3 linked regions of the Homo sapiens genome follow. The protein of the gene in region 1 purifies or fractionates together with the protein of each later gene. This does not show direct contact. Each region holds a gene or a part of one and is shown in the gene's direction. Other genes may lie near its edges.

The links.
Region 2: the proteins of DHODH (region 1) and HERC4 purify together in Homo sapiens (affinity purification with western blotting; one study listed by BioGRID). This does not show direct contact.
Region 3: the proteins of DHODH (region 1) and PRR11 purify together in Homo sapiens (affinity purification with western blotting; one study listed by BioGRID). This does not show direct contact.

What each region holds. Positions count from the first base shown.
Region 1 is NC_000016.10:72,018,744-72,022,474, forward strand, and holds part of DHODH (dihydroorotate dehydrogenase (quinone), mitochondrial), read left to right. Parts: intron 1-2,380; coding exon 2,381-2,568; intron 2,569-3,618; coding exon 3,619-3,731. UniProt on the Homo sapiens protein: Catalyzes the conversion of dihydroorotate to orotate with quinone as electron acceptor. Required for UMP biosynthesis via de novo pathway.
Region 2 is NC_000010.11:67,921,405-67,925,283, reverse strand, and holds the end of HERC4 (probable E3 ubiquitin-protein ligase HERC4), read left to right. Parts: intron 1-96; coding exon 97-199; intron 200-2,144; coding exon 2,145-2,353; 3' UTR 2,354-3,379; downstream 3,380-3,879. UniProt on the Homo sapiens protein: Probable E3 ubiquitin-protein ligase involved in either protein trafficking or in the distribution of cellular structures. Required for spermatozoon maturation and fertility, and for the removal of the cytoplasmic droplet of the spermatozoon.
Region 3 is NC_000017.11:59,203,978-59,207,440, forward strand, and holds the end of PRR11 (proline-rich protein 11), read left to right. Parts: 3' UTR 1-2,732; downstream 2,733-3,463. UniProt on the Homo sapiens protein: Plays a critical role in cell cycle progression.

The sequences.
Region 1 (3,731 bases):
GCCCTCTGGGGACAGAGTAATCCAGCAATTTCTGTCTAACTCCCAAATCTTGTCAGTTTGGGCAGATGACTCCTAATCCGTTAGCTACATGAAAGTGATATTCTCCTTCAAGTCAGTTTACTTGTGAGGAAAAGAATTCAAGCTTACAGATGATCTTGGCTTGATGGGTGCTAGACTGGGAAGCTTGGAGACCTTATGATAAACCTTTTGTCTAATTGGATTCTTTGTTTCTTTTGAGACAGAGTCTCCCGCTATTGCCCAGGCAACAGTGGTGCAATCTCAGCTCACAGTAGCCTCCACCTCCCAGGTTCAAGCGATTCTCCTTTCTCAGCCTCCCAAGTAGCTGAGATTATAGGCGCCCACCACCATGCCTGACTAATTTTTATATTTTTAGTAGAGACAGGGTTTCACCGTGTTGGCCAGGCTGGTCTTGAACTCCTGACCTCAATTGATCCACCCACCTCAGCCTCCCAAAGTGCTGGGATTACAGGCGTGAGCTGCTGCGCCCGGCTTCTAATTGGGTTCTGATCCCCTCCTCCAGTCCCCACCCTGGAAAGTAGCTACACTCATCTCATTTGCTGATGATGCGAGAGTGTGATTGGGGTTGGGAAGGTGGTGAGCAGTACAATAGATGTTGTTTGATCCTCTCTGGCCTGACAACACATTTTGTGAGCTACTTGGTGTTCTAATTCTTCCCCCAACTCTCAGATCAAAAGTACAGCCTGTACCATTGATGTACCACTCCCCGTGCAGATAAGATAGTAAACTTAGAAGAAGTCAAGTAGAGACAACCCGTTTCTTTTACACATAGTGTGTTTCTGAAAATGTATTTTTTCTGGAGGTCCAAAATGCAAGTCCATTGATAGTCCTGTGGATTTTTAAGTAAGCTGACCTAATTGCTTACATGTAAACTGAGACCCTCTTGAGAGTAAAAAGGGGCAGGTGTTAACAATGATGCCCAGGCTAGGGGAGTAATCAGGTTGTCCAGGGAGCACCTAAGATACAGGGTACCCTCAGTTATTATATGAGGGAGAGTCCCTTTCCTCAGAGAACTAAAATTATAAGTTAGAAAACAATTACACCTCTACATTTTAGGCATGATAATTGAAAACATTTGGCCGGGCATGGTGGCTCACGCCTGTAATCCTAACACTCTGGAAGGCCAAGGCAAGCGGATCATTTGAGGTCAGGGGTTTGAGACCAGCCTGGCCAACATGGTGAAACCCCTTCTCTACTAAAAATACAAAAATTAGGCCGGTTGCAGTGGCTCACGCCTGTAATCCCAGCACTTTGGGAGGCTGAGGTGGGCAGATCATGAGGTCTGGAGATGGAGACCATCCTGGCCAACATGGTGAAACCCCATCTCTACTAAAAATACAAAAATTAGCTGGGCGTGGTGGCACATGCGTGTAATCCCAGCTACTCAGGAGGCTGAGACAGGAGAATTGCTTGAATTCAGGGGACGGAGGTTGCAGTGAGCCAAGATTGTGCCACCACATTCCAGCCTGGGCAACAGTGAGACTCCATCTCAAAAAAAAAAACAAAAAACATTTTCCAGTATATATATATGTGTATATGTATATGTGTATATATATATATATATATATATATGTGTATATATATATATATTTTTTTTTTTTTTCTTTTTTTTGAGACAGAGTCTTGCTCTGCTCCTTAGGCTGGAGTGCAGTGGCGCGATCACGGTTCATTGGAGCCTCAATCCTACTTCAGCCTCCCGAGCAGCTAGGACTACAGGTGTGCACCACTGCTCCCGGCTGAGTTTTCAATTATAGAGATAGGGTTTCACCATGTTGCCCAGACTGGTCTTGAATTCCTGGGCTCAAGCAATCCTCTGCCCTTGACCACCCAAAGTGCTGGGATTATAGGCGTGAGCCACCGCACCTGGCCTGTTTTTCAGTATTTTATACATGTTCTTTCATTTTGTTTTTTCTTCGCAACTGTACATCCAGTCAACCGAGCCAAGGCCAACAAGCATTCCTTGAGGTGAGAGTTGCGGGCCTGATGTGCCTACTGAGTTCTCTCTGTTCTCAGTTTTATTCAATTTATGAGGCCCATCTTTTGCCCCACAAGTATTTGCAGTAATTTGTCCATTTTCCATGAAAATTTTAAAAATAAAAAGGGCAAAATGCAGCAAAACATCCTCGTAGCTGCCCAGACTTTGCTAGACAAAGCCAGTGAGTGGTTTTGGTCAGCAGGCGGGCCCAGGCCGCAGTTGAGCACCTGTCAGCCGGTGTCGGGCAGGTCAGGTTTGGAGGGAAGGCCTGCGCGGCTGTCCACAGGTGGTTTGGTCAAGGGCAGCCTCAGAAGGTGGCACAGGAAAGGGTGTGCGGGGTGCAGGCCTGACCAGCGATGTTTGCAGATGGACTGCCTCTGGGGGTCAACTTGGGGAAGAACAAGACCTCAGTGGACGCCGCGGAGGACTACGCAGAAGGGGTGCGCGTACTGGGCCCCCTGGCCGACTACCTGGTGGTGAATGTGTCCAGCCCCAACACTGCCGGGCTGCGGAGCCTTCAGGGAAAGGCCGAGCTGCGCCGCCTGCTGACCAAGGTGGGCAGCTGCACCCCTCTCCAGGCCCTGTCCCACCAGCCTGTCCCACCTGCTCCCCTTCATTCTCCAGGGCGAACCTTCAGCATCACCCTCAGAAGCTGTCCTTAGCACCTAGACCAGTAGGACCCCTGGCTATACCTTCCCAGAGTCCCCTCTGATCCCCTCTCATGACACTGATTATATGCGACGGTGACAAATTATCTGTCCCTGCTGCTATAAATCACGGGGTCTGTAAGAGCAGACACCACGTCTCTCTCATTTGTCACTCTGACCCTAGCGCCCAGAGCTCTGAGTGAACTGAAGGACTTCATCACCCAGTACATGTGGTAATATTTCCTGGTTATCTTTTAGGAATAAAAGTCTAAAAAACGTTGGACACCGTGGCTCATGCCTGTAATACCAGCACTATGGGAGGCCAAGGCAGGTGGATCACTTATAACCCAGGAATTTGAGACCAGCCTGGGCAAAAGAGCAAGACCCTGTCTCTACAAAAATTTAAAAATTAGCCAGGCACAGTGGCTCAAGCCTATAGCCCCAGCTACTTGGAGGCCGAGGCAGGCAGATCACTTGAGCTCAGGAGCTGACCAGCCTGGGCAACTTGGCAAAACCCCATCTTACAAGAAATACAGAAATTAGCTGGGCATGGTGGTGCACACCTGTAGTCCCTGATACTCTGGAGGCTGAAGTGGAAGGATCGCCTGAGCCCAGGGAGGTGCAGGCTACAGTGAGCCGTGATCATGCTACTACACTCCAGTGTGGGTGACAGAGTGCGACCTTGTCTCAAAAAAAAAAAAAAAAAAAGAAAAGAAAAGTCTAAAACACCCTTGAGCTATTAGCCAATGTCCACGGGATCCCTTGGCCTAAAAGAATGGAATCGGATCCATCTCGACTGTACTCCTCACGTCTGAGGGCTGGCTTTCCTGAAAAGAAATTGTTTCTGCTTTAGTTTGATCGCTATTGTGGAAACCCACTGACCTGCAGCGTAGGTCACAGCTGCACTGCAGGGCTGTGGTCTGCGGGGTCCCCAGCTCTGGCCGTGTGTCGCCCTAGGTGCTGCAGGAGAGGGATGGCTTGCGGAGAGTGCACAGGCCGGCAGTCCTGGTGAAGATCGCTCCTGACCTCACCAGCCAGGATAAGGAGGACATTGCCAGTGTGGTCAAAGA
Region 2 (3,879 bases), on another chromosome or scaffold:
GCACAAGTTGCAAACTACTGGACCATGTTAGCTTTATGTGCTAATATATTAGCCAGTGTGTCCCTTAATACTAATAAAAGATTATGTTGTTTTTAGAATACAGAATACAAAGGGGAATATTGGGCAGAACATCCTACGATAAAAATTTTTTGGGAAGTATTTCACGAATTACCATTGGAAAAGAAGAAACAGTTTCTGTGTAAGTATTTCTAACTAGTTGTATACTTTATGAGACTGGAATCTAATTATAGTATTATTCCAAAGCCCTGTTTTAATCTTCAAGTAATTTTTTTGAAACAGAACTATCTGCACTCTTCAGTACATGTATTTTCTTATTTCAAAGGCTAAATTCAGTTTGCCTTCAAAATAGCATTGATTCATTCTATGAAGTAAAATGGAAGCTAACTTGGAAATGAAAGCAAACTATAGCTATGTTATAGTTACAATAAACTGTGGTTACAATAAACTAGGATTGTAGAATTCCTTTTAGATTTCTAAAAAGATCTCTGGAGTATAGTCATCCTTTGGCATACATGGGGGATTGATTCCAAGACCTCCCTGCCAAGGATACCCAAATCCAGTAGATGCTCAAGTTTCTTGTATAAATTGGCATAGTATTTGCATATAACCTACACATATCCTTATACTTTAAATCTTCTCTAGATTACAGTCATGTGCCACATAATGACTTTTCAGTGAATGACAGACCATATATACGATAGTGGTCCTGTAAGATTATAATACAGCTACTGTACCTTTTCTATGTTTAGATACACAAATACCTACTGTTATGTTACAGTTACCTACAGAATTCAGTACAGTAACATGCTGTACAGGTTTGTAGCCTAGGAGCAATAGGGCTATATCATGTAGCCTAGGTGTGTAGTAGACTATATACTGTCTAGGTTGTGTAAATATATGATGTTTACAGAATGAAATCACCTAATGATGCATTTCTCAGAACATATCATCATCGTTAAGTGACACATGAATGTACATGTTATTAATACCTCATACAATGTAAATGCTATGTAAATAGTTGTTATACTGTATTGTTGAGGGACCAATGTCAAGAAAAACAGTTGACACATTCAGTACAGTCACAAGCATCCATTTTTTGAAAATATTTTCGATTTGCAGTCGGTTCAATCCATGGATACAGAGCTCACAGATACGGAGGGCCAACTGTATTGCTCTTTTCTCTGTTTGGTCTTCATTTTCTTTTTCTTTTTCTTTTTGCTTCAAGACTAAAACTTTGGCAATTTCTATATAAAATAAAGCTTTTTCAGGCCTTAGTTCCCTCATTTATAACTGATGCCTGTGTATCTTTCTTCTGTTAAAGTCTGTATTCTAATTGAAATTTGACTTATTTTTAAAGTTGTCAGAATTTATGTGTCCAAATCGGTGACATTTCCTTTGATACTCCTGCTTTTGCCAGGAATGATTTGGCAACCTCCGAGAATCTTGGTCAAATTCTTCTGTGTGTCATAAGGATGAGAAATCATTACTCTTTAAGAGTGATTTGAGCCTGGGCAACATGGCAAAACCTCATCTCTATAAAAATTAGCCCTGGGCTTGGTGACTGTGCTCCCAGCTACTCCAGAAGCTGAGGTAGAGAGGATTGCTTGAGCCCAGGAGGTCGAGGCTGCTGTGACTGTGACCGCACACTGCACTCCAGCCTGGGCAACTGAGCAAGACTCGTCTCAAAAAAAAAAGAATGATTTGAATTTTGGCTGCCCATTATAAATTTCTGATTTAAAAAAAATAACAGAAACGAAGCAAATAGAAAAAGAAATCATAATCAAAACTGCATTTTGTATTTGGTTTGTCAACTAGTTCTGAATGGCTTTTCCAAAAAAGGGCTCTCAAAATGTTTTGGCAATGGCAAAATACTCACTTATCAAACATTTATTAAGCACTTCCTTTGTGCCAGTATTAAGATTATACTTTTAAAGAAAAAATATTGTGTGGATGAGCAATTAGAATGTGTCTCAAAAAACTTGTCTTCCACAAATTAGGAAGTAAGATAACACGTTAGAGCAGATGTTAAAGTGAAGCTCTGCTGTAGCGACTGTACCAAATATTACTTGCTACTGTATCTTTTTGTTTTGAAGTGGTTGACTGAATGATTTCTTTCTTGGCAGTATTTTTGACAGGTAGTGATCGCATTCCTATTCTTGGTATGAAGAGTCTGAAACTAGTCATCCAGTCCACAGGAGGTGGTGAGGAGTATCTCCCAGTTTCCCATACTTGTTTTAATCTTCTGGATCTTCCAAAATATACAGAAAAAGAAACTCTACGCTCTAAACTGATCCAAGCTATTGATCACAATGAAGGCTTCAGTTTAATATAACTTTGGAGTTATAACTATTCAGTTTAGTGCAAAAGCATTAAACTATTTGTGTTTTTCTTGTGGTGATGAATTCAGCAAGGTGACAGAGGTACTATTATAATTCTTACTTGCAGAATGTTCAATCTACGAGTGTTCATGGAAGCCAAAAAATATTAAAGGAAAATGAACAAACTGTTAATATTATTGTACAGAACCATGGATTTTTTTTGACCATCTTCTAATAAACATAGCAAGTATTATGAATACATTAAAGTTTTACTAACATGAATTTTAAGAGTTTGCATATTTCAGAAATGATCTGGTGTGAGTGCATGGAAATATTGCTTAATTTTTCTTCAATCATTGAGTGAAAAACCTTTAACTTTGGCCTGCAATAGTCATTTGATTATTTTTTCATTTTGTAAATAATGTTAAGTTTTGTAATAAAATAGTTATGTTCTGATACCAGTACAGTTTCTATGGTTGTAATTGAACTTGAACAGACTTTTAAAGGTTAAAAATTATGATTTAAATCTTACTCTGAGACTCTATAAAAAGAAAAAAAAGGTAGCATGGTGGAAACACTATCTTTTCTTTTTTGCTAGAATAAGTGTCTTTGTGCAAACCTAAATCACAGATAGGGAATATACTACATAACCTGCAGTTCTTTTCTTTGTGAATCCTGACACACTGATAGATGGGGGATTGTCGATCAGAGAACTTATTAATATTTAGTACTGGAAGAACTCTGTCTCCACAGTTGCCAGTAATAAAAAGAAACATTGGCTACTATGAGCACCAATCACTGGGTTATAGCTTTCAAAATTATTGATGCTGCAGTGCTTTAGAGCTATTTCCTTGAATTTAAGAAACAAATCTTAACAGTTTTATGGTGCTGATGCTTAGTTGTCTCATGCCATTAAATTGTAAAAGTGAGTTGATGCAATACATGTGACTTTCTGCTATAATGCAAATATTTATTTTTTAAATTTATTTTAAAATGCCGTGAAAACTGTTTAATAAAGATTTATTGTTTTAATATTTAAACTTTCAGTGGTTCTCATATAAGAGTCAAAATTTTTCAAAAAGAGGGATGGTTCAGGGAAGGTCTCTTAAATTTCGGATGACTTGTTTCTATTCCTACATGAATTTATAGAGGTCCACAGTCTCTTAACCTGCAATTCTAAAATTTAAAAAAACTGAAAAGAATATTGTCATCTCTCACTTTGCAGAAAAACCTGATCTGAATTGTTGAAGCTATTTATGGTATTCACTAAATAAGACTATGACCGCTATTGGGTGCTTTAAAAAATTCTTCAGAATTCACAATTCCAAAATGCAAATAAGCCCAAGGGGTTGGATAAGGGATTGTGGACTTGTACTTTTCAGTAGATTAACTTAAAAAACTATTGGCGAACCATAGAACTCTTCTATAGATAGAAGCACTAAAACAATATTCTCACCTAAGGTACTTTGTCTCAAAGTAGTAGCATTCTTCCCCATGAGAGTGTTTCCACATACCTGATATTATACCATTTTCCCTGTTC
Region 3 (3,463 bases), on another chromosome or scaffold:
AGTATTTATAACAATAATATTTTATGGGGCGCTTATAATGTTTATAATATTGTAAACCACTGTGTACTCTATTCATTTAATGCTAAATGACTTGACCATTCTTGTGGGATAAGAGATCATTAAAAAAATGCTAGGGCCGGGCACCATGGCTCACGCCTGTAATCCCAGGACTTTAGGAGGCCAAGGCAGGTGGATGACTTGAGCTCAGGAGTTTGAGACCAGCCTGGGCAACATGATGAAAACTCCGTCTCTACCAAAAATCAAAAAAATTAGCCAGGTGTGATGTTGTGTGCCTGTAGTCCCAGCTACTTGTGAGGCTGAGGTGGGAGGATGGTTTGGGCCCCGGAGGTAGAGGTTGCAGTGAGCTGAGATTGTGCCACTGTATTCCATCCTGGGCAACAGAGCCAGACCCTGCCTCAAAAAAAAAAAAAAAAAAAAAAAAGGCCTGGCACAGTGGCTCACGCCTGTAATCCCAGCACTTTGGGAGGCTGAGGCGGGCAAAACACTTGAGGTCAGACGTTTGAGACCAGCCTGGCCAACATGGTGAAACCCCGTCTCTACCAAAAATAAAAATAAAAATTATCCAGGCGTGGTGGCATGTGCCTATAGCCCCAGCTACTCAGGAAGCTAAAGCACGAGAATTATGTGCATCCTGGAGGTGAAGGTTGCAGTGAGCCAAGATCACACCACTCCACTCCAGTCTGGACAACAGAGTGAGACCCTGTGTCAAAAAAAAAAAAAAGAAAGAAAGAAAGAAAAAATGCTTTATGGCCCAGTGCAGTGGCTCACACCTATAATCCTAGCACTTTGGGAGGCTAAGGCAGGAGGATTGCTTGAGGCCAAGAGTTCAAAACAAGCCTGGGCAACATTGCAAGACCCCAACTCTACAAAAAACGAAAAATTAGCCGGGAGCGGTGATGTGTGCCTGTAGTCCCAGCTACTCAGGAGACTGAGGTGGGAGAATCACTTGAGCCTGGGAGGTTGAGGCTGCAGTGAGCTGTGTTTATACCACTGCACTCCAGCCTGCTGGGTAACAGAGCAAGACTCCATCTCAAAAAGAAAAGAAAAAATGCTTTGCTACATAATGAGGCCAGGCAAAAAAAAAAAAGTCCTGTGGAAATCATATAGACAAACATTTGCAAAGCTGCTACTGCCATTGTACCAGTGTTAAACTGTGTTCTACCTTGCATCTTTTACTGATTTTTATGACAGATTTTATATTGTAACCATTCGAGAACTCTGTAAGTGCTATGGCTTCCTTAAACTACGATTTATCATATGCTCCCGGTGTTTACTTTGAGACTGAATGGCAACCAGAGAATGTAAACAACCAAGGTGCATCTGGTTATGTTTTAAAATAAAGATTAATAAAAGTTTTGGTTTTTCTCTTTCTAACCTTCTTTTTAAACTAGAAATATAATACCTATAGAAAAGTAAATGTTGGCCGGGTGCGGTGGCTCATGCCTATAATCCCAGCACTTTGGGAGGCCGAGGCAGGCAGATCACCTGAGGTCAAGAGTTCGAGACCAGTCTGGCCAACATGGTGAAACCCTGTCTCTACTAAAAATACAAAAATTAGCCGGGCATAGTGGCAGACACCTGTAATCCCAGCTACTGGGAAGGCTGAGCCAGAATGGCTTGAACCTGGGAGGCAGAGGTTGCAGTGAGCCGAGATCGCCCCATTGCACTCCAGCTTGAGCAACAAGAGCGAAACTGTCTCAAAAAAAAAAAAAAAGTATATGTTAAGTATAGAAAAATATATAAATTAAAAAATTATAGGCTTGGGGGCCAGGCACAGTGGCTCACACCTGTAATCCCAGCACTTTGGGAGGCCGAGGTGGGTGTATCACTTGAGGTCAGGAGTTTGAGACCAGCCTGGCCAACATGGTGAAACCCCGTCTCTACCAAAAAAAATATATAAAAATTATCTGGGTGTGGTGGCATGTGCCTATAGTCTCAGCTTCTCAGAAGACTGAGGCGTGAGAATCACTTGAACGATGGAAGTGGAGGTTGCAGTGAGCTGAGATCACACTACTGCACTACAGTCTGGGCAACAGAGTGAGACCTTGTCTCAAAAAAAAAAGAAAGAAAAAGAAAAATGCTTTATGGCCCAGTGCAGTGGCTCACACCTATAATCCTAGCACTTTGGGAGGCTAAGGCAGGAGGTTCGCTTGAGGCCAAGAGTTCAAAACAAGCCTGGGCAACACTGCAAGACCCCAACTCTACAAAAAACGAAAAATTAGCCGGGAGCGGTGATGTGTGCCTGTAGTCCCAGCTACTCAGGAGACTGAGGTGGAAGAATCACTTGAGCCCGGGAGGTTGAGGCTGCAGTGAGCTGTGTTTATACCACTGCACTCCAGCCTGCTGGGTAACAGAGCAAGACTCCATCTCAAAAAGAAAAGAAAAAATGCTTTGCTACATAATGAGGCCAGGCAAAAAAAAAAAGTCCTGTGGAAATCATATAGACAAACATTTGCAAAGCTGCTACTGCCATTGTACCAGTGTTAAAATGTGTTCTACCTTGCATCTTTTACTGATTTTTATGACAGATTTTATATTGTAACCATTTGAGAACTCTGTAAGTGCTATGGCTTCCTTAAACTACGATTTATCATATGCTCCCAGTGTTTACTTTGAGACTGAATGGCAACCAGAGAATGTAAACAACCAAGGTGCATCTGGTTATGTTTTAAAATAAAGATTAATAAAAGTTTTGGTTTTTCTCTTTCTAACCTTCTTTTTAAACTAGAAATATAATACCTATAGAAAAGTAAATGTTGGCCGGGTGCGGTGGCTCATGCCTATAATCCCAGCACTTTGGGAGGCCGAGGCAGGCAGATCACCTGAGGTCAAGAGTTCGAGACCAGTCTGGCCAACATGGTGAAACCCTGTCTCTACTAAAAATACAAAAATTAGCCGGGCATAGTGGCAGACACCTGTAATCCCAGCTACTGGGAAGGCTGAGCCAGAATGGCTTGAACCTGGGAGGCAAAGGTTGCAGTGAGCCGAGATCGCCCCATTGTACTCCAGCTTGAGCAACAAGAGCGAAACTGTCTCAAAAAAAAAAAAAGTATATGTTAAGTATAGAAAAATATATAAATTAAAAAATTATAGGCTTGGGGGCCAGGCACAGTGGCTCACACCTGTAATCCCAGCACTTTGGGAGGCTGAGGTGGGAGGATCACTTGAGGCCAAGAGTTTGAAACCAGTATGGGCAACATTGCAAGACCCTGTCTCTACAAAAAACAAAAAATTAGCCGGGCATGGTGGCATGTGCCTGTAGTCCCAGCTACTCGGGAGACTGAGGTGGGAGAATCACTTGAGTCCAGGAGGTTGAGGCTCCAGCGAGCAGTGTTCATACCACCTGCACTCCAGCCTGCTGGGTGACAGAGCAAGATGCTGTCTCAAAAAAAAAAAAAAAAAAAAAAGAAAGAAAAAAGAAAAATGCTTTGCTATATAACGA